Linked DNA regions of Homo sapiens. The protein of the gene in region 7 purifies or fractionates together with the protein of the main gene of each other region. This does not show direct contact. Each region holds a gene or a part of one and is shown on either strand. Other genes may lie near its edges.

What was found.
Region 1: the proteins of STK40 (region 7) and KIAA0232 purify together in Homo sapiens (affinity purification with mass spectrometry, with the first as the bait; one large-scale study listed by BioGRID). This does not show direct contact.
Region 2: the proteins of STK40 (region 7) and PPP6C purify together in Homo sapiens (affinity purification with mass spectrometry, with the first as the bait; one large-scale study listed by BioGRID). This does not show direct contact.
Region 3: the proteins of STK40 (region 7) and MTCL1 purify together in Homo sapiens (affinity purification with mass spectrometry, with the first as the bait; one large-scale study listed by BioGRID). This does not show direct contact.
Region 4: the proteins of STK40 (region 7) and MAPK6 purify together in Homo sapiens (affinity purification with mass spectrometry, with the first as the bait; one large-scale study listed by BioGRID). This does not show direct contact.
Region 5: the proteins of STK40 (region 7) and CAMSAP3 purify together in Homo sapiens (affinity purification with mass spectrometry, with the first as the bait; one large-scale study listed by BioGRID). This does not show direct contact.
Region 6: the proteins of STK40 (region 7) and TIMP3 purify together in Homo sapiens (affinity purification with mass spectrometry; one large-scale study listed by BioGRID and IntAct). This does not show direct contact.

What each region holds. Positions count from the first base shown.
Region 1 is NC_000004.12:6,855,727-6,859,226, reverse strand, and holds part of KIAA0232 (uncharacterized protein KIAA0232), read right to left. Parts: intron 3,427-3,500; exon of another isoform or gene 3,371-3,426; coding exon of another isoform or gene 3,329-3,370; intron 2,064-3,328; coding exon 1,997-2,063; intron 803-1,996; coding exon 721-802; intron 1-720.
Region 2 is NC_000009.12:125,146,073-125,148,938, forward strand, and holds the end of PPP6C (serine/threonine-protein phosphatase 6 catalytic subunit), read right to left. Parts: 3' UTR 501-2,866; downstream 1-500.
Region 3 is NC_000018.10:8,827,556-8,830,416, forward strand, and holds part of MTCL1 (microtubule cross-linking factor 1), read left to right. Parts: coding exon of another isoform or gene 1-55; intron 56-1,352; coding exon of another isoform or gene 1,353-1,391; exon of another isoform or gene 1,392-1,410; intron 1,411-2,861. UniProt on the Homo sapiens protein: Microtubule-associated factor involved in the late phase of epithelial polarization and microtubule dynamics regulation.
Region 4 is NC_000015.10:52,043,219-52,046,718, forward strand, and holds part of MAPK6 (mitogen-activated protein kinase 6), read left to right. Parts: intron 1-559; exon of another isoform or gene 560-2,446; intron 2,447-2,611; 5' UTR 2,612-3,242; coding exon 3,243-3,500. UniProt on the Homo sapiens protein: Atypical MAPK protein. Phosphorylates microtubule-associated protein 2 (MAP2) and MAPKAPK5.
Region 5 is NC_000019.10:7,609,363-7,612,862, reverse strand, and holds part of CAMSAP3 (calmodulin-regulated spectrin-associated protein 3), read right to left. Parts: intron 2,388-3,500; coding exon 2,248-2,387; intron 2,164-2,247; coding exon 2,070-2,163; intron 1,987-2,069; coding exon 1,932-1,986; intron 1,769-1,931; coding exon 1,695-1,768; intron 1,347-1,694; coding exon 1,277-1,346; intron 1,177-1,276; coding exon 1-1,176. UniProt on the Homo sapiens protein: Key microtubule-organizing protein that specifically binds the minus-end of non-centrosomal microtubules and regulates their dynamics and organization.
Region 6 is NC_000022.11:32,860,705-32,863,541, reverse strand, and holds the end of TIMP3 (metalloproteinase inhibitor 3 precursor), read right to left. Parts: 3' UTR 501-2,837; downstream 1-500.
Region 7 is NC_000001.11:36,347,925-36,351,424, forward strand, and holds part of STK40 (serine/threonine-protein kinase 40), read right to left. Parts: intron 892-3,500; coding exon 776-891; intron 1-775. UniProt on the Homo sapiens protein: May be a negative regulator of NF-kappa-B and p53-mediated gene transcription.

The DNA.
Region 1 (3,500 bases), on a different chromosome or scaffold from region 7:
CAGGTTTGGCAGGTCAAGGATTGCCTATGTTCCCTCTGCAGTAAACAGTGGGAACTCAGTGTTCTTGCTTGTGAACATGGATAATCATTTCTTTTCTTTCTTGTTTTTTTTTTTTTTTTTTTTTTTAATAAGACAGAGTCTCGCTCTGTCGTCCAGGCTGGAGTGCAATGGCACAGTCTCAGCTCACTGCAACCTCTGCCTCCCGGGTTCCAGAAATTCTCCTGCCTCGGTCTCCTGAGTAGCTGGGATTACAGGCATGTACCACCATGCTCAACTAATATTTGAGACTGGGTTTCACCATGTTGACCAGGCTGGTCTCAAACTCCTGACCTCAGGTGATCCACCTGCCTTGGCTTCCCAAAGTGCTGGGATTACTGACATGAGCCACTGTGCCCGGCTGATAATCCTAATTTCTCACAGCTGTCTCAAAGGGCTGTTGTGAATATTAAAGGTAATAGTACATACATAGACTTAGCAAATAATAACCTTCTATGTTTCACTCATTTGTTCCACAAATATTGAATATGAACACCAAGGACAGAACCATCTTGTTTCACCTTTGAATTCTCAGTGTCAAGCATATAAGCGCTCGATAAATGTTTCTTACATTATATATAATGAAACTAAACAAGATGACAAACAGAAAACGGAAACCATGTAGCAGTTATTCATCTGATTTTAACAAATGCACACTTTATTACCGAATACAATCTTACATACATTTCCACTTGATCCTTTGCTGGAGGGGATAATTCTGCCTCTGGAGAGGGAGACCCCTCTAACTTTTTGTGAATCTTCTCTTCTGTTATGAAACAAAAATTAAGAAAGATTTGTCTTATATCTAGTTAATAAATGCTAATGTATTTCAAAGTTTCTCAACTAATTTTAACAAGAAATAGAGACTTTGGTGCTTAAAAGGCAAACTCAATACCGATCTTTTTAATAAAAATCTATTTTTTCAGTGTGCCAGAGGGAATTCTCCGATTAAACCACATTAGCATTAGGCCAAGAGGTGAGAGTTGTTCATCTCGTCACTGATACAGTGCTCTAGAGGCACTTAATTAAGAGACTGAAGTCCCCTGTGTACTTATTAATTAGACCAGAAGGACAGAACATCTGTTTAGATTCCAAAACTATTTTCTCACAAAATTCTACACTCATAGACTTTACATTGACTCATCTTGACCAAAACTAATCTGTAAAGAATATTCTTTATTACAATTTGCTCTATTACTTAACATGTAGGTGAGCAAGGGCTATTTCAACTGAAACAGGAAAAAGGGCTATCCCTTAGTTTAGCCTAGGATACTGCCTTAGGTTACAAATCAACTGTGCCCTTAAGAGGCAGGCTCAAGGCTTGGTGGGCAGCAAAATGACCATAAAGAGGGCAAGGAAACAAGGATCCTCACCCTTAATATGAAGGTCTCGTTCTTAGGGATTGCAAACAAGTTAGAAAAAGTATGAGGAGGATTCATATATCGAAATAACTAAATAAGCTTGCCAAGTCTGTGTTTTCAAAAAAGCTGAGTCAAAACAGAAGTCCCTTCCAAACCTGAAGTAATTCATGTCTTAACATCTTAATTTAATGTCGTAATTTAGCAGTCTTAACATCAACAGGCAGATATTAACAGAGGGGCAAGGATGGGGAAAGGAAAGAGACAATATTGTTCCTGATCTCTGAGCTTCAACTTGAAGCCAACAACAATTAAAAAAACCCAAAAAACAGAAAACCATGAAGTGTTTCCTATCTCTGAGGGCACCTGTGGACTAAGTCCCTCCCTTGGTTGCAGGAATCTCTATGAGTGACTGCTGGGTCTGACACAGAAGCCACTAACAGAGCTGCAGATGGAGCATGAGGCTGGCCTAGTGACACACACTGGACACAAAGACTTTGTTCTGGTTGTTTTCTTTTCTGATCAATTCTAAGATTTTCCCCAATCCAGATTCCTCAGGGATGTAATCCTGGCATGTGTGCGCACAGTGCTTTTGACCTCACCTTGCTTACTCTGAAGGTCTTTCAGTCTGGAGCAGAGCTCCTCCACTAAAGTCTCGATACCAGAGCTCTGCATGACAACAAAAAGACACATTAGGTTACAGCCAGGTATGTACAAATCAGGTATTTGTATACTTTTGTTTTAATACACAGGTTTTACAAATCATCCACATTCCAAAATAAATATCTTACCAATATTTACGTGAATACTACAGTTTAAAAATTATAGGTTTGTAGATACAAATTGGTATACATGCTTATTACTAATAAGGCATATTAAATGAAACTTAGTGATAAAATGTGAACATATTCATGTACCTCCCAGAATAGCTTCTGTTTTTCCAAAGGTGTGTCATCTTGCTCATGGGGCAGATTTAAGGGCCTAAATGTCCATCATACGACCAAAAGTCAGTCACCATCAAAAAGAGTATTAAATATTTATGTGAGCGAGATCTTATACCAGACTTAAAACAAAGGAAAATCACAAAACCTCATCTTAGTTCTCTAGGAGCTCACACCCTGAAGAAAACAAGGTGATTTTTTTTTTTTCTGTTTTAAAGAAACATGAACACTCATGATTAAAACAACAGAAGTCCAGAAAATGAAGCCAATATTGCAAATGTGAAAGCTTTGTCTTCTTTTCAGCATCTGGACCAGATTATCGACTTCTATACAAAGCTTGGGAGTTTAAAATTTAAGGAGAGTACATAGAAGAGTCTGGATTTGGGAGGGTAAAAATAAGAGTCAACCTTTAAAGAAAAATGAATGTAGAAAACAGGCACAAGCAAATAATCTTTCATTAGTAGACTTTAACTTTTAAGAGTCTCAATTTCTCACAGGAAGAAAAAAAAATTTTTTTACAGTGGACAAAAAAAGTCAATGTATTTCTCAGAAACTTTAGATTTATTCAGTGACCAAAGTCCTATTTAAACTGGAATCAAGTCCTTATTGGTGGGCATAACCCAAACAGATGCGCGTGATGGAGAGTTCTGCTAAGCCAGTGCCCTCACTAGGCCTTGACGGGCTAAAAATAGAACTTTACCCCATTCACTTAACTCAAAATGACTCAGCACAAATATTATAGATATCCTACATAAGAAATCCCACGGTTACACAGTTTGAGTAGCAAGAAACAGATTACAATGAAAACAGTTAATTGTAAACATCTAGAGTTACATTCTGTCCACGTCATACCACAGGTTTTAATAGGAAGATAGAAAAATAGGCCAGACAAGAGTTGCCCTTTCCTTTAAAAACACTCTTAAAAACGATGGCAGATATTAGTCATAAACACTGTTCAACCACAAACAGTTGCACCAGAAAGCACCTGCTTACCATAATGCTCAAGGTGTGACAAGGACGGCAATTATATTCCATTTCCTTCGGATCGTGAAACCAACACCAGTGTCAGCTGACACACTGCATACTGTTCTGTACAGCAAGCCTATGTCACTAGGTTTCTAAACCTAGGGCTAGTCTCGCAATGCAGAACACTGAACCTCTAGGG
Region 2 (2,866 bases), on a different chromosome or scaffold from region 7:
TTATATACAAAAGCACAGTGCTGCTGAGCATAGTGGGTGCCTAGGGATTGAGTGGAATATACTTATGTAGTATTTTTGTTGACAACACAAATCTATAAATGTCATGCATTTTTGAATTAAGAAAACATTTGAATGATCTAAGCCAGCATAAGCCTACTCTCATGAGGGCACAAATTCACCAATAAATTGATACGGAAATAGAAAACAGGAGGGGAATGCAGAACCAACCTTCCCCAAGCATCTAGTGTGTCTGGCATCATGCTAGGGGACTTTCCAAATGTTTCTTTTTGGTTTACTACCGTGTATTTCGTCAGCATCACTACACACTGTAAATATACAATTTAAAGAGTTGTGATGATCTCATGAAGCATAGTTCTGGGCACTGGATCGAGGTTGTAACAATAAACATTGCCTTTAAAGAGTTGGAACACTTAGCTCAGAGTCAAATGCAAAACAAAAAAAAAAAGGTTTCACTTTTGTTCACCAGTCAAGCAACCAAGTGGAGGAATAAGCATTTTTTAATTTCTTATATAAAATGCTAACTTCTTGTCAGGACATACTACAGACTATGCATTGAATTTTTTGACAAACTTCCTGTAATCTTTTTATTAATTTACACTGAGGGAATATAGCACCTTTCATCCGAAGAACTGAAGGTGCTTTACAAACATTAGCATTTAAAAAACAATTACATTTAAAAATCTGGATTCTTGATGTCAAATCTCTTCGACTCCAGATACACAATTTCCTGGAAGCTGATGGAAAGTGATTCTATTTCTGACAATGAAAGAGGCTCAGAAAGAGTCCTAATTTGCTTTCACAGTACAGGCATTTTCCAAAACCTGGTTCTGGGCTTACAAAGCACACACACACAAATCTTAATGCAATGAACAATATTTCAAACCTTATTTCCCAAAGCAAAACCTAGGGCTTAAGACGTCAAAATCTTCCAACAGTTCTAGACATCCAGACAGAATAGGAGCTGATGCAGATTGCATATGAGATGTACTGTTGATCCAGGTGTTTTAGGATCACACTCAAATGAATATAAAGTAGTGAAACTTTTTGGGGAAACACATTAACTTATAAAAAGCTAGCCAAGAGCATATCGGCCAAAGGAGGAAAGGGAGTAAATGGCAATTCAAAGTAGACAGTTCTCACTAGAGCCTAGGGCACTTTATTAGAAACCAAGTATATCATAGGCAAATAAAAATAGTTTTTACCCCCATTGATACAACATAAGGGATTTTACATTCAGCCTAGATATAGGGAGTAACAAATCCTCCTGCCCATAAATCTATGACTTGCAAGTATCTTCCACCACATGATAACTCTATATAGTACATATAGTACATAGCCCTTATTTATTGGAGGGATCCAAAATATTCCTTGTAGGCTCACAAAGTCCAATACATTAGCTCTCTCTTCCCTTTACACGTCTAATAGTAAAAACTATTTTTTCCATGCAAAAAGCCATTATTCAGTTGAAGAGAAATCAGGCAAAACAGAGATGGCAGATAAGGAATGGAGAGAATATTATTGGCACGTGCCCAACTAGTGACAAACAAATGCAGTACACAATGACTTAAAAATAAAAGTCACATTATAGGGATAACAAAAACAACTACATCAATCTAAGCTAAGGAGTGTCAAACAGGGAGGGCTGGGAGTTACCGGTTCTATTAGTACAACTTAAGTGGAAAGCAAGCACTTAAATACAATTTATGGTAACAGGAAAAAAAAAAATACTGCAGAGAGCTGTTCAAAGACCACACCAAGTTGTCTGCATCATTAATTTCCAGTGTTTCACAATTAGTAAAATACATAGCTACATATCCCTGTGAGATAAAAATACCTTTCCACCTGAATTACACTGGGATCAGGGCAGTAACACGAAGCTACTGACCCAACATTAGTTCAAGTGTGTGCAGCAAATGTCTTAGCCACCTCTTTCATATAGCTATATAATTAAAAACTATGTAAGGAGCTGGGTGGTTTGAGGGAAAAAAATTAAATCAAAACAGTATTGTGCTCAATTAATAAAAGAAAACCCTGATGAAAAATTATATGCCAAGAAGCTTAGACTATAAAGATTTTTATTGCATTTTTAGGTAACCTGGAAGTTCTTATCCTGAAGGGGAAAAGTGGGTTTTCAAAACTACCTGAACAGATGCTAAAGTGCTTTATTAATTGGCTGGCTTCACAAGTATTTCCTGGAATAACAAAAATTAATCATAGTAAAGGGATACCAACTATTTCACAAAATGTACATTCCAACATCATTTATGACTACAGTCATAAGAGATACTGGAATACTTGTCCTTATTAAGTGGACAGTTGCATATTCAGAACTGATCATCACAACCCTTTGGATATTCAAATTACTTACACAAAGCTGAAATATGGTATCACAGACCTTTGCAAAAAAGAAGAACTTGTTTCTTTTTCTACACTTTAAATAATCTGCTTCAGATTACAGTTCACAAATACAAGAGTCCTAACTTTTCAACCTTTCCAGTTGCAGTTTAAAAATGAACACTTTCTAAAAGTTAAGGTCAAGTGTTACAGCAAGAGAAGAATGATTCCTATTGAAAAGCACATAGATTTTAGTTAATAATACTCATGATAGATTGTAAACTGGATTGATCACATTCTACTCAACTGGTATCAAATTAACACATCAGCATTACAAGTATTAAATGTTTTTCTATTACTATAGAGGATATAAACCAAAACATTAATATGGCAGTTATGTTCTTTAGGCACAGTTTAGTGATTTTTTTCAAAAATAAATACTATTGAATTTCAATTGAAGTTTTAAACTCAATAACCAAAGGGTCAAGAACTCTGATTAGGAAAAAAGAAA
Region 3 (2,861 bases), on a different chromosome or scaffold from region 7:
TGACAAATGGTGTCTTCTTTGGGCTACTGTTACCCCATCCTTCTGGGGTCCTCAGGTAAGTCCTCCTGCCGTGGAACGGTCTGTTTATATGTGAGTGCCCTGCCTTCTTAGGGCTCTGAATCTCAGTTGAAATTGGGGCTATGTCACAAAGCATTAACCGGCTGTGTCTGTATTGTCTGTTTATATTACACACCAAATAGAAATTATTCTTTAAGAACCAAAAAAATGCTTTGAATTACGAATAGTGAATCCTGCAAGCAAAAATAGGTTCTTGATGGAATCCCAGCATTATGGCATGAAAACGGTTTTATCAGTACAAAGTGGCGCCCAACCCCTTTTGTCCTCCGTAAAGTATTCATTTAGATTTTCTCTTCACTTGGTGTGTTTGCCACCAAAAGAGATGATGTGAAGGGAGCACAGTTGCAGGGCCTCAGAGCGGGCATGGAGCACTCATCGGCAGCATCTAAATGCCACGGGCTCTTTTTTCCATTTCTGTTGGAATTTTCCTCGTTCTAGATTCCAGTGGGATTGTTCTGAATTGATGTAATATATTCAGGCCATTGCAACCCCTTCCCATTGCTCCATGAATTATGCAGTAGTTCTCGGTATGCGTTCCCAAATCCCCAGGACTACTTCTGATTCCAAGCCCACCCAGTGCGCTGTTGCGGAATCTTTCCCCGAATGTTCACTCAGGCATCCACACCCAGGAGTGATGCAGGTGACAAGAAATCTCCCTTTCTCACTGCACTGTCATCCCATAAGCCACTCGGGCCTCTTTTTCTCTTGACACCATGGCACTAGTTCAGCAGTGCAGAGAGAAGCCGTGAGGAGTTCCGGTGTGAAGAGAAAGAATCTGAAAATGGAATGCTCTTCCTCCCTCCCCTAAGTGGAAAATGTGAGGGGAACTTTTTAGAGTAAGTGGCAGTAGCTTGGCTGTTGTGACCGAAACAAACGCAGCCGTATAATAGTCTCTGTTTTAGATACCAGTCATGCAATTTCCATATCTCTGTTTGCCAAAGTGCTGTTTGAAATGTTAAATGCTAAAGGGTGACTCGGAAGCATAGAAACTAGAGGGAGGTCTGTGACTCCTCCATGGAGTTTCCTTCTTCTCTCTGGGCAGATGGCAGAGGGCAGGCCTGTGTGCCTAGTGCCTGGCCACTTCCCCACACCTGCCTTGGAGTGAATGTGCTAGATCTGAGAGCCCGCAAGTCTCTCCTGGTGGCTACCCCTGAGCGAGAGGGATGGTCCTCTACCTCCGGGCTTGCTGACTTTAAACCTTTATTGTTCTCCTGTTTAAAAAACACTTTCCAACCTTCTTGCTTTTCTTTTCTTTCTCTGTCTGTTCTGTCCAGAACCAAACTGTCTTGCTAACTGCCCCCTGGGGACTCTAGCCCTGCCCGCCTCACGCTGTAAGTGCTTCCTTCCTTGTTTCCCAACTGTCTGGAGAGGTCGTGTTGTGTAACTCGCAGTTGGCACCTGACGCTCATCACCTGAGGGAGTTCTGCCCGGTGGCGGTACCCTCGCTCACCCCAAGTTCCAGGAGGTTCGCCTAAACCCAGGAACAGATTGATAAGGCCAGAGACTCATCTGCTCTGCTAGAGGGTTGACCACTCAATGCAAAGAAGGGTTTTTAGGTTATAGAGATTCTGCTGAGATTTCTCCGCTTTTGTACATTTGCAGCCAATATGCTTTCAGAGAATTGAGTAGATACTGGCCAGGAGGGGACATCCTAGGCACAGGGGTCTTGCCTGAGGGGGTCTTTGGGCCCAGCCACCCAGGACTGGTCAACATTTTGGTTATACGTGCACTGGCATGTGCTGAAATGAGGTGTGACCCTAATGTGATAAGGCTTTTGTTTTTCATTTTTCAACAACCATACCACAAGGAATGAACCCAAATATATCTTGTCCTTCCAAGTGAGCACCGTGGGTGACAGAGTAAATGCTCAATAAATATTTGTTGAATGAATAAACAACAAAATCATCCCCACTCCAAATATCTTGAGACCTTCCCTCAGAATTGCTTTCAGAGTCTGAGTCAAAGCACATGAGAAAAGATATACTTTTTGATCAAGGATATAGTCATCCACCCACCTCATCCACTGGCCTTGACTCGAAGCCAGTAGTATCTGTTGTCAAATACAACAGATGTATCCCCATGAAAAGATGACAGGGAACACAGGGAGGGTCAATTCCCAGAAACGTGCTACAGGGGCAGCATCCCAGGACACCATGCCATGCAGCGACCACAGTGGCTTCTCGGGAAAGCGCAGCATCGTTTGCTTGTACATGCCGGTGTGTTACTAAGGAAAAGGTTGATTCCCTTGAATGCAGACTCACAGTGATTCTTCCTTCACAAGCAGAGGCTGGCAAAGAGGGGGTACTGAATGGTCTCATAAAAAGCCTGCTCTTCAGCACCAGCCAGGCGGAACGGGATACGGTGGTGTCAGATAAACCTATGACAGCAGCTTCACCAACACACAACACACACAGAACAGATACACAATACACAACACACACACTACTTCTATAACAAGGGGAGCGCAGACACAAAACACACAGATTTCCCAAACCGTGTGTCCCAGTCAAGCACTGTGGGCTGCAGTGAGATGAGGACACAGGAGCACCTTGGGTTAGTCTGCATCTTGGTGGCTGGTGGCGCTGGTGGAGTTTTAACTGGAGAGGTATTTCTGGTTGTCACGGTACTGTTAGCATAATGCTTTGGGAACAGAAGCTTCTCCCTGTGGCCGTATGAAGTTCCAGCCACAAAAGCAGCAGGGAGCATGAAGCATAGTCTCCAGGGCCACTGTTCCTTTTCTGCTGACCCCAGAGGGAGGCAGGGAAACCGCTCGCCCCATTGCT
Region 4 (3,500 bases), on a different chromosome or scaffold from region 7:
GGGAGGGAGACATGCAGTATTAAAGCCCTTTTTAAAAATCTGAAACTTTTTTACCAATACAAAAATTATTTTTATTTTTTATTTATTCATTTTTTTTGAGACGGAATCTTGCTCTTTTGCCCAGGCTGGAGTGCAGTGGCGTGATCTCACCTCACTGCAACCTCCACCTCCCAGGTCCAAGCGATTCTCTTGCCTCAGCCTCCCGAGTAGCTGGGATTACAGGCACCTATCACCACGCTGGGCTGATTTTTGTATTTTTAGTAGAGACGGGGTTTCTCCATGTTGGTAGGCTGATCTCGAACTCACGACCTGAGGAGATCCACCTGCCTTGGCCTCCCAAAGTGCTGGGATTACAGGCGTGAGCCACCGCGCCTGGCCACAAAAATTTATTTTTATTACTTATTTCCACTATCACATGAGCTAGATCATATAACAACATTGAAAATCCACTGGCTAAAGACCAAAGACAGACTAATGGCTCAGCTAGATAATAGCAAATGATATGTTGGACTTAAGTTGTTTGATTTTTTTTTTTTTTTTTTTTTTTTTTTTTTTTTTGAGGCAGAGTCTCGCTGTGTCCCCCAGGCTGGAGTGCAATGGCAGGATCTCGGCTCACTGCAACCTCTACCTCCCTGCAACCTCTACCTACCTGGTTCAAGCGATTATCCAGCCTTACCCTCCTGAGTAGCTGGGACTACAGGCATGCGCCACCACGCCTGGCTACTTTTTGTATTTTTAGTAGAGACGGGGTTTCACCATATTGGCCAGGCTGGTCTTGAACTCCTGACTTCGTGATCTGCCTGCCTCGGCTTCCCAAAGTGTTGGGATTACAGGCGTGAGCCACCGTGTCCGGCCTTGAGATATTTTTTTAATTCAAAAGTTTATTCACAAACTTCAACTTTTAAGTGTTTTATTACAGATAGACTGGTAAGCTACAGAATTTTTAGGACTTTTTTTTTGGGGGGGCGGGCTAGGAGGGCTGATTTCTGAGAAGCAGAGAAAAACTTGTAGACAGGAGAAGCCGTTTCTGTTACAGTAAAATAAAGCTATTATACTATTAGTATCCTTCATGATATTAAGCAGATACAAGACCCGTTCTTATTTATTAAAAGAACTGAGGGATATAGTAAGTATCAGTTTTTATTAAAGCTGTCTTTCTCCTATTGGACAATGAGTTGCGTTTACTGAGGGCCAGAATCCTTTTGCTCATATCAGGTTTGCTCCTGCCTAGCATATAGTAGTTGCTCAATATATGTTTATATATTAAACGAATAAATTGGTGGCTTTATTCTTTCTGCCTAAAATATTGTCTGGTCTTATTTGTTAGGAATTCTGACCACCTGATTTTCCATAATGCCTCATATCTGGTATTCTGGGTACTCTGCAATTAGGCCATTAAGAAACTGAAAGAACCAAGTTGCATTTTTTTTTTTCCAGGCTGGCTAGGGAACCATCTACTGGAGTTGAGGCTATTTTTTCCTGCCCTTTTATAGGATATTTTTTAAAGTATGAAATATTTTAAGTGTACAGAGATCAATATAATGAACCTTCATATACATACCACCCAGCTCTATAAGATTCTAGTAATCTGCCATGTTTGTTATTTTAAAATAAATAACACATTAAAACGCAGATAAATGATTCTGGTCTCTTTCCTTAATCTCCGGGTAATCATTATGAATTTGGTATTTGTCTCATTTTTTTTTCCTTTTTTTTTTTTTTTTAGTTTTGCAATATACATATGTACTTACCAAAAAAAACTATTTTGCATGCATATAACTACTTATCTGTTCTCCTATTTTATGAAGTTGAGGTTGTTTCTAATTTTCTTTACCAAAAAAAAATGAGCATTTCTCTAGGGAGTTTACTGTGAAGAAAAATGGCCGGGTCATAGAGTACGCTATTTATTTATTCATTTATATGTTTATGCCAAATTGCTCTGAAGTTTTTACTAATTTAAACTCCAACCACTATTGTGTGAAAGTTTGTTTTTCTACACTCCTCAGACTTGACATTAACAGAGATGCATGTTTTTTCAATCTGAAATGTTCTCTTAAGGTAATCTTTTCCTATCAGTCACATTAAATACCTTTTCATAGGTATTATTCATTGTTCAAGTTTACTCTTATAAGTTGAAGAACATTATTTGCATATTTGTGCTGTTAGATTTTTGTTCATTGGATATTGATAGGCATAGTTAATAAGTAAACATGCTTTTTAACAAACTAACACATTGCAGGCTTCTTCTATATTCTTTTAGATATTTAGATAGATGTTACTAACGTTTTACCCCTCACAAAACTCAAGTTCTATAAAAATATTATGAACCTTCCCATACTTGTTGGCATTTCAGAAATGGTACAACCTAATGAGCCTGTTACCAAGAATCTAGTGTAGTGAAATCTGGAGCCCGGGCCAACGTGTGTGAATTGCTGATAACATTTTTGTAAGCTATTTTTGATTAAGGGTAATTTGTCACTTAATGACCATAATTAAGTTTAATGTACCAGTAGTAGTTTATTGCTAAATGCCTACTTTGTGTCATACTACAAATTTGAAGAAAAGAGTATTTCCTGCAATGGTGACTCTCTTCTTTTTCTCATCCCCCCAGGTTGTATCAGAGTAAGATGGACGGTAGCTTTGATTGTGATTGTGGTGAGCTGGAGCCACCTGATCACTAACAAAAGACATCTTCTGTTAACCAACAGCCGCCAGGGCTTCCTGTTGAAATAAATATATAGCAACAAAGGAAAAAAAGAAGCAAAACGGAAATAGTGCTTACCAGCACCTTAGAATGATGCTGCTCAGGACCAGTCCAACACTGAATGTATCTGCACTGTGAGGAGAATGTTCATAGAAGCCTGTTGTGTGCATATTTATTCACATTTTTGTTAAATGTTAAATCGTTTAGCACGGTAATCTGAGTGCACAGTATGTCATTTCATTCCGTTTGAGTTTCTTGTTTTCGTTAAATGTCTGCAGAGTTGCTGCCCCTTTCTTGAACTATGAGTACTGCAATCTTTTTAATTCTCAATATGAATAGAGCTTTTTGAGCTTTAAATCTAAGGGGAACTCGACAGGCCTGTTTGGCATATGCAATGAACATCAAGAAACCATCTTGCTGTGGAAGCATAATTATTTTTCTTCTCCCTTTTTGAAAGATCTTTCCTTTTGATGCCAGTTTTCTTCCTTGTTTACACAAGTTCAATTTGAAAGGAAAAGGCAATAGTAAGGGTTTCAAAATGGCAGAGAAATTTGAAAGTCTCATGAACATTCATGGTTTTGATCTGGGTTCTAGGTATATGGACTTAAAACCATTGGGTTGTGGAGGCAATGGCTTGGTTTTTTCTGCTGTAGACAATGACTGTGACAAAAGAGTAGCCATCAAGAAAATTGTCCTTACTGATCCCCAGAGTGTCAAACATGCTCTACGTGAAATCAAAATTATTAGAAGACTTGACCATGATAACATTGTGAAAGTGTTTGAGATTCTTGGTCCC
Region 5 (3,500 bases), on a different chromosome or scaffold from region 7:
CGCAGCTCCGCTGGCCGCGTGTGTTTCGGGCTGCGGGGTGACTGGCTGGGCCCGGGCCCAGGGCTGCGCCGGGTGGCCGGGACTCGCCGGGCGGGGCTGGGGGATGCAGCTTTGGGCCCCGTCGTGGGGCCAGGGATGACCCACGCAGCAGGTGGTGGGGCGGATCCGGGGGCCTCGGGCGGGGCCAGGAGCCGCTGCTGCTGGTCCGTGAGCCTCTGCATGTCCCGCTGCAGCGAGCTCAAGGCGGCACTCAGCTTGCTGACCGCTCGATTGTATTCCCCCAGCCCCTCGTGGGGCACCGGGCCCAGGTCTGGCGAGAAGGTCACTGCCTTGGGCCGTGAGGTTGGCTCACCCTGGCCCTCGCCTGCGGGCCGCTCCCCACCAGGGACTGGACCGGAATCGGCCTCCTCCGCCTCTGCTTCCGCCTCCCCAGAGGCTTCCCGCGGCTGCACCTGCAGGAAGGCGCTTTTGCCCAGCCGCTGGCGGTGCTTGGCGAATATGGCCTCAATCCGTCGCTTCTGAGCCTCGATGGCTCTGCGTTTCTCCTCCAGCCGGGCGCTGAGCTCACTCATCTCCGAGCTCAGGGCCTCCGGCGGGGCCGGAGTGGACGTGGGGGACCCCGCTCCGGCCTCAGCCTCTGCCTTCACCAGCTGTTTCTTGCGTTCTGCAAAGCTGGTCATTTTCACCTCGGAGTTGGTGGCTGCTGGGGACGAAGCCACCGCCTTCGGGGACCCCTCGGATGGGGCTGGCGGTTTCGATGCCTCCCCCACCAGACAGGGAGATGGTTTCGAGGGGGTCTCGGGGTGTGGCATGTACACTGGTGCTTTGGTGGGCCTGTCGGACAGTGGTTTGGAGGTCCCCTCGGGCAGGTAGGGGGAGGCCAGGGATGGCTTGGAGGGCCCCTCAGGGGAGTGGAGGTAGAAGCTGCCGTCGGCCGCCCCATCTGGGAGGAGCCGGGGCTCGGCACTGTGGATGATCTGCAGAGCTTCCTCGATGGTGGGCAGGTCACCAGGCTCCGGGGGTGGCTGGGTGGGGGTCCTGGCCGGCGCGGGACGCGGGGGGCCCAGGCTGTCCGAGCTCACAGAGCGGAGGAGCACAGGGTCTCCCATGACGACATCCACGTCGCTGTCCAGGCCAAAGGGGGTGCTGAATGACACAGCCTGGGAGAGGGGACGGCTGGGCGGCCGGAGGGAGGGGTCAGCCCCTGGGACCAGCCTCGGCCCCAACCCGCCCTAGCCTGCTCCACCCCCTACCCTGGCCTGTGAGGTCTACTCACCTGAGCTGCCGGTTCCAGGCCTTGCCCAGGGCCTCCATATGGGACATGGACGGGGAAGACTTCAGGGAGCCTGGGGGAGGCGATGAGTGGTCACTATGGGGACCCTGGGAACCCTGAGTGGGGTCAGCCAGCATCTGGGGACAACCTCTGCAAGGTCATTGGGTGAGTCACTGATGGCTCATTATGTGGTCTAGTGAGACCAGAGGTTTCCAGAAACAGATACCCGGGGCCATTTACTGTCACTACGGGGTACTGTGGGGCCACTGGGGAGGCCATTCTGGGGGTCACTTTGGGATGCCCAAGGGGGATCTGATGGAGAGGCTATTGGAAGGCTCACGAGGAGACAACATGAGGCCCACTGGGGCAGTCTGTGAGTGGGGGGGTCCCCCGTGACAGAAGCCACCTACCCCCTCCTCACCTGTGGATCCTCGGAGTGGGGACTGGGGGCCACCAGATGACAGAAGCGGGTGGCGGAAGGTGAAGACAGGAGAACTGTACGGAGAGACGTACTTCAGCCTCAGGACCCCCACCTCCTCCTCCGCCTCTCCCCGGGGGGAGACAACAGCATCACCCAGCTGCGTCCCAGTGCTCAGCAAGGCAGACATGGAGCCCCACACCCACAATGCCAGAGACTCGCCCAGTGTGGGGAGCGTACCTACTGCCGCTGTTGTTCTGAGGTGGGGAGGCCTCAGTGCCCCGGGGGGAGGCAGCTGCAGTACAGAGAAGAGGGTCAGGCGGGGGTTTGGCTCTCCCACCCGCCCCCGACCCGGCCCCCAGGCCCCCAGGGCCTCACCGTGACCATCGGGCAAGTCCTTCACTTGCACAAAGTCGGGCTTGAGCACCTCAAAACACATGAACAACTCGGCCAGCATCACCACCAAGTTGACCTGGAGGTGGGAGGCCGGGTCAGCAGACGGGACCCCTGGCCCCAGATGCCCGCCTCGGCCCAGGAGGCCCCAGGATGGCCTTACCTTGAGTGGCGGTGGGACGTACAGCAAGTCCTCAAGGGACAGGGGGCAGCCACGAGGAAGGCGAGAGGCACAGAAATCCTGCACGAGCTGGAGGTTGTACAGGCTGTCCGCCACAGACATGGGGTCCTTCAAGCACACCTCTGTGGGGACAGGAGGAGTGGGTCCCCAACTCTATGAGGAGGAGGATGGGGCCCCAGGGAAGCCAGGGACCAGCAGTCCCCCACACACGGAAGACCTCCTATGAGCCCAGCTTCTGCCAGGTGCCCTTCGAGAGGTGAATTCTTTTTTTTTTTTTTTTGAGATGGAGTCTCGCTCTGTCACCCAGGCTGTAGTGCAGTGGCGCAATCCCAGCTCACTGCAACCTCTGCCTCCCGGGTTCAAGTGATTCTCCCACCTCAGCCTCCTGAGTAGCTGGGATTACAGGAGTGTGCCACAACACCAGGCTAATTTTTTGTGGTTTTAGTAGAGATGGGGTTTCACCGTGTTAGCCAGGATGGTCTCGATCTCCTGACTTCATGATCCGGCCGCCTCAGCCACCCAAAGTGCTGGGATTACAGGCGTGAGCCACTGTACCCGGCCGAGGTGAATTATATGATAGACCGTCCTTAGGCCGGGGGTCCTTAACCCCCGGGGCGTGGCCTGTCAGGAACTGAACCGTACAGCAGGTGAGCTGCAGTGAGTGTATTTACAGCCGCTCCCCGTCACTTGCAGGACCACCCGAACCCCGCTTCCGTCAGATCAGCGGCGGCATTCGATTCTTACAGGAGCGCGAACCCTATTGTGAACCTGGCGTGTGAGGGATCTAGGTTGCACCCTCCTTATGAAAATCGAATGCCTGATGATCTGTCACTGTCTCTCATCACCCCCAGCTGGGACCGTCTAGTTGCAGGAACAAGCTCAGGGCTCCCACTGGTTCCCCATGATGATGAGTTGTAGAATTATTTCATTCTATGTTACAACGTATTAGATATAAAGTACATAATAAAGATTAACGTGCTTGAATTATCCCAAGACCACCTCCCTGCCTCCATCTGTGGAAAAATTGTCTTCCACAAAACCGGTCCCTGGAGCCAAAAAGTTGGTGACTATTGCCTTAGGCCTTTGCATCTTTCTAGAACACTCTCCCCCAAGACCTCAGCTCAAAAAGCTTTTCCGGGCCAGGTGTGGTGGCTCACACCTGTAATCTTAGCACTTGGGGAGGCTGAGGTGGGAGGATGTTTGAGCCCAGGGATTCAAGACCAGCTTGGGCAACA
Region 6 (2,837 bases), on a different chromosome or scaffold from region 7:
GTTGTTATAAGCTCTGGGAAAAGGTCACCAGCTGTCGTGAGACCTCATGAGTTCCTGGTGTTCCCAACTAGGCCAAGCCATACTTGGAATTTCAAGCAGGCAGTTGACATCAAGGACTGCTGTTTGCAGGCCGCCCCTCCCCACCTCCACCAGGTTGGGATTCTTAGGAAGAAAACAAGGAGGGCTGAGTAAGGACTCCAGTCTGGGGGTACTTGTACCACCAATAGGTGATTAGGTACAGATATATTAATACATCCAGATTCAGCAGAACTAGGGAGGACTCTAGCAATAGAATCAGGGAGCAAAGTCAAGGCAGGGCACCTCTCCTAAGATTCCTTCTGCAAGGGAAAAGGACTGGAGCAGGGTGGGGCCAGGCCATAGCGGTGCATGGAGGGAGGGATGTGTCCAGGCCTGGAGCTGGGGATAGACTTTCAAGGCCTGCTGGTGTATACATAACTCCCCGTGGCGTCAGAACACAACAAGGCAAGAGACAGCAGATGTGTGATAGAAATAAAACCACTTTACTGTTTAGAATAAAGGACACACTATAAAAAGTGAACATTATGCAACATTACAAGACAATATACATTCACGGAATATAAAATTCATAAATAACATGGAGGAAAACTGTAAACAGTGCTACGAAATTTAGCAACAAATACATTCCTTCTAGACAGGGTTCGAGATCTCTTGTTGGTTTCTCTCCATCACTTCTGGGTTTCAGGACAGCAGACTGGCTAAAGGGAAAGGCGGATGCTGGGAGAATCTAAGAAGCCTCTACCCCCAAAGCAAAAACTATTCTCCAAGTTCTCCCCTTCCTCTCGCCTCCAAAGAGCCAATTTGGAAGTTGTTGTCACATCCACCTCCCCTACTTTCCATTTTGTTTTGCTTTTGCCATCAGATTTTTATAATGTTTGTCTCTCATAAAAATACTCTAGTGACATGTTAACCTTAGGTAGCCAGAAGCCAAACACTTGGGTGCCATCTTGGGGTAGTCCAGATTGTCAATTGTCACATGCAAGACAGAGGTCTGGGGCATGGAAGGGTAGTGTCTCCTGGGGGCCACAGTTTGCCCTAGACAGGGCTATTCCAAAAAGTCATTTGTTTCTTTAATTGTTCAAGAACCATGTTGCCACCATGAGGCAGGTCTGGAACGAGGGGAGGGTAAAAGACAGGAGTCTCCCAGTATTACCTACCCTGGACAGAGCAGAGCACTGGCCCGAGAGCTGAGAGCCTGAGCATGGAGCTTCCTTGATTGGGAGGCAGAAGAGATGCCCAAAGGAGGAAGCGAGAACTTGGAATTGTATCTCCCATGGCCCTGGATTCTTAGGAAAATCATGGCTTCCCAACTGGATGGGCAGCAGGACTTGGGGTGAAGTAAATGGTAGACTACCCAGGGCCGAGTGACACAGAACAAGAACATGAATGTAGTTTAAACTTTTTTCCTACTCCAGGAGCCATTGGGATTCCAATAGGGAGGAGGCTGGAGGAGTCTCAGTTACTAGTTCCTTCTATTTCCCCCAATTCACCAGTCTAGCTGCTTGCCTAGAAGTATTTTCCTCTCCATTCCACTGCAGAATTTGATTCAGGAAAATGGCGGCATGTGGGTTTCATTTTTCTCTTAAACACAATGTACACATATTACAGCCTACACATGACACAAGATTTAGCAAAATAAAATGTTCATGATATGATTGAAATACAGAAGTGTCTCAGCTACATAAATGATTTTAAATTATACAGTAAGTGAACGGGTGAAATAAACAAAGCTATAGCTTATAGAAAGCTCAAAACCGCCCTCTGACATCGCTTTGCGAAAGACCCTTCTTTGCCCAGGGCCTCCTCACCAAGGCCTAACAGATGGGGATGTGGTTCTGCTAATTTATCGACTCCGCAGGGAAACTTCAGGTGCCTCACACTCAGCCTTCACCCAAGTTCCTCCTTGTGTGAGAGAGGCTGACCACACCAGGGAGTGCGAATGGCCAGATGCCTCACAGAGAAGACACTGATGTCCACTTGTGGGAGGGAACTTGTGTAGGTTGGTCAGGGGCCCCACCATGCGAGACCTTGAGGTTAAAATAAGGACAATCCCAAAACATCAAGTCTGGGCTCATCCCTTCAAAACCAGTGACATGCTGGCATCAGCTTCTGCTCACACTGCCTCACAAAGAAGGCCAAGCCTCCCATTCTCCCCCTGCCAAATGGCATGACCACAATGGGAAAGGTACACGGTAATGAAATTGATCCCAAGGAAACCCGATGCCGGTACTCTCTTCCCACTCTGCGGTTCTGCCAAGCACCTTGCCTGGGCACTTGTGTGTGTGCAAGACTCTACAGTGTGTTGTCTGCTGCTTTTTTTTTTTTTCTTCTTCTGTTTCAATTGGCAGCTCTGTTTCCTAAAGTGGAATGAACTGAAGATACAAATACTAATAGAAGATAAATACCCATAAGCTGAAAAAAGAGACAGAGAGCAATCATGTTCAATGTCACCATCCTGCCAACCCCCACTCTGTAAAATATACATTATCACCTACTCTCAGCATCTCACTTTTGACACTAAAACTTAAAATAATTTTATTTAATAGGAGAATTTATATTATAGTTTTATTTCAAAAAAAAAAAAAAAAACACAACAGAAACCCTACAACTGGTTGCAAACTCAGGCTTTCCCCAGTGACCAACAATTTTAATTCCAAGAGGTGAGGATCTCAGGAGGTGGCATTCACCCACCAGGGAGCTAGGGAAAGGGAACCAAGCTGTCTCCACACCCAGGAGAGGTGTCCCTCCAGCCAAGGCAGGCAGGACACTCTGCAGCTCTCCCTCCTGTGCCCAGGCCC
Region 7 (3,500 bases):
GGCATGAGCCACTGCACCCGGCCTGTGAGTTACTTATTTGTTTCGTGTATTATCTGTCTCATCCCCACTAGAAAGTCAGCTCCATGAAGGCAGCAATGTTTGTCTACTTTGTTCCCTGTTGTCTCCAAAGTGTCTAGAACAGAGCTTTGGGCCTGGGTGGCCCTCAGCAAACAGTAACAGAATGAATGAACACAGACAAGGAGAGAGGGCTCTGAAACACAAACTCACAGCAGCACACTCAGTTAAGAACTGTTCAATGGCTTCCACTCGCACTTGAAGTAAAGGATGACATCTCTTACTGAGGCCTATGTCAGGCCTTGCCTGATCTGGCCCCTGCGCACCTCTCTGGCTTCCCCTTGAACCAGGCTCACTTTCTGAGCAGCCTGCAATTGCTCCAACGTGCTGTGCTGCCTCTGGGACCCTCAGCCTCAGCCTAGTCACACATACCCAGGGAATTCCTAGTTTCCCTTAAGATCATAGCTCAACTGTCACACCTTGTGGGGAAAGTCCTCCAAGCACCCTTCATCCACTCTCACAGCAATCCCGTTCCTCCCTAGCACTAACCTCAGAGGAATTAAACATGCATTCATGTTATCATTACGTCTTCCACCTCCAACAGACCAAACATTTTGTATGGGGAGGGACAGTACTGGTCTGGGCCCCCAGTGAAGCCCCAGCACCTTGCCCAGGGCCTGCCCACAAATTTGCTGAGTGGACTGTCACAGAGCCTGGCTGTATTGAGCTTAGAGGCCCAATGTCTGGCACACACACGTACCGCTGAGCACGTCGGGACTGATGTAGGCAGGGCTCCCTCTCTGGTCCTTCAGCAGGTCCCCCTCGCTCACCAGATGCTTCCCGAGGCAGAAGTTGGTGATGGTTATCCGATGTGTCCTAGGAGTGGGAGACAGAGTGAACAAACCTCAGTGTCTATAGCAACAGGCACAAGACACGCAGGCAGGACACACCTCACTGGGCCAACACCCAATCCTGAACAGTAGGAGGTAGGCTTCTCGTCAGAGGGTGAAGCAGCTGCCCCGACCCCCTCTCCAGGGAGCAGAGCAGAGGAATCAGGCCCCAGACTTTTCTGGCCACCAGCCGAGCTGTCCCAGCAGGGATCGGCTTCTCTCCCAGGTATCTGAGTGTTGCACAGGCCATCCCTGGACCTGCTGCCCGGGCTGAATCTCGGGGTACAGCTTAGGGCTTAGAACAACTTTCAGAGATTTCTCAAAAACAGCCTCACGTAATATTCTAGACTGGGAGTGACCTGAGATTTAGTTCAATTTCCTCATTCACACATGAGGAAAAGGAAGTCCAGCAGAGGTGAGTGACTCCACCTTGGAAGGTGACCCAAGGGCTGGCCCCGAGCCACCTCCGAACCACGGAATATGTCAGTTCTCACTTGGCCCCACAACCACTGCAGAGGAAGAAACTGACAGTGGCCAATGAGGGGGATTTTCTCACGGTCCTGTTTCAGATGATACAACAAAGGCACAGGGAAGTGAAAGGACTTGGCCAAGGTCATGCAGCTGGTGAGCAGAAGAGCAGGATCCAAGACCAGGTCTGCAGGGCCCCAGAGCTGCACACACAACTGACAGCTGCCTCATGCCCAGATGTGTCCCTGGGCAGGGCCCCAGGCCCCGAATGACTTTTCCTTCTGTTCCATCAAAGCTGACTCATCCCTTACCTCGTACTTGTGACTCTGCCCTGGCTAGAACATCACAGACCCTCCCTCTGAAAGGCGTGGGGCAGGGCAGCTTTGGGCTCTGATCCTTTGGAGAAAACTCACATGTGGACAAAAGGAAGTGCCCCGAGAGGACCCTTACACCTTACACCACACTGGGGGCTGGGAGGGTGGGCAGGCCCTGTCTAAGAGGCCTGGGAAAGGTTTCCTGGCCCACTGGGGCAGGCAGTGAGGAAGGATGCCTCTCTACCCAACTGCCCTGCTCCTGTGTCGGCTGGCTGGGTGGAGAAGCTAGGGGGAGAAGCTGGGAGGACAACAGGAAGGAGAGCTCCATGGGGGCCTTGGGCTGCCTCTCCCTACAATCAGCTCTCAGAGGCAGAGGGCATGTGTGGCTGCTGGCGGATTTCCCCGGGAGCCGCATCCAGGCGGCTCTGAGAGCCCTCGGTGATCTCGGGGAATTCTGCTGGCAAAGGGCTCGATGCAAAACAAAGGCCAGCCCGTCCTCTGGATTCCCCACGGAAACGCCAACTCCAGCGCCTATACAGGTCCGCCCTGTCAGCTGCCATAGGAGTCTGACTGGTGGCCCGCAGGCGGCTAGAGCCTGATCGCACAGGTGAAGGGTCACTGCAAAGGGTCACTTGCACGTCAAGGAGTGGGCTGCTCTAGCTCTGAAGCTCCAGTGCCGCTGCCCTGAATATGGGGCTGCTCGGGCCTCTTGTCCAGAAGGTTCCCACAGAGCAGAGGCACTGTGGGTTTTCTCCCCTGGTCAGAGATGGCCGCGGAAGCTGCAAATGCATCCTGTGGGTCTCTGAGGCTCAAGACGCTGAGAGGAGGACAGCTCAGGAGAAAGTACGGTGGGTTTGGGAGCCAGGTTCCTAGTCCTGGCTCTGCCACTTCCTTGCTCTGTGAATCTCTTGCTAAACCTCAATTTCCTCATGCGTACAACAGTGAAATCCCAGCACCAAACTCCAGAACTGGGTTAGGATTCAGCAAGATAAGATAATCTCATGGAGGGCACTTAGCCCAATGCCTGGCAAATAGTAGAAGCTGGTGTCCTCTCATCTCCGATGGTTGGCACACCTGGTAGGAAAAGACTCTGTCTTGGAGGCGGTAGGGGAGAGGTGCCATGGTGTGACAACAGGCCCCGGAGAGCACATGCCAGTGTGGCTGAGCTTTCAACTCAACACTGCTGGTGGGACTTTCCCACCCTCTGCCAGGGCACGGGCAGGCACAGCTGAGGCTCTGCAGGGCTGAGCGGCAGGCGCACTGGAGTCTCTCCACAGGAAGTGGCACGGGCAGCTCCAAGTCCTCCTGAGGTTTGGCAACACTCCCCTGCCCTGCCACCACCACCCAAGTGGGGGGTGCATGGCTCCCCGGGAGTCCCAGACCCCCTAGTCTGGTCCTGACAGGAGGGGGCAATGGCAGAGTGGGACGGAGGGAGGGGACGTGTGTCAGTAGGATCGGCTCTGAGTGAGTCACGCTTTAGCTATGGCCCTCTGGGCTGCCACAGTGTTTTTCTCCTTTTCTAGGAACTTGGTATGTTGCTTGCCTACCAAAAAGAAAGGAGGAAGGAAAAAGACCCCACAGCACCTCACATAACCCCAGAAGAGGATTTCGAATTTCGATCCTTTTAAAATCCAAAGCGGGGTGAACTTGTTGTTGCAGCTGCCTTGCCAACACCTCCCCCTGTCTGCTCCTTGAGAGCTCTCTGCTCTGCTGAGAAGGCCTCCAGCTGGTCCGCCTACTGCTCCAGTGGAGTTATAGCCTGGCATGATGGGTGGGAAGGGGCTGGAGTGGGCTGGAGCTCCTTCAGGTCAAC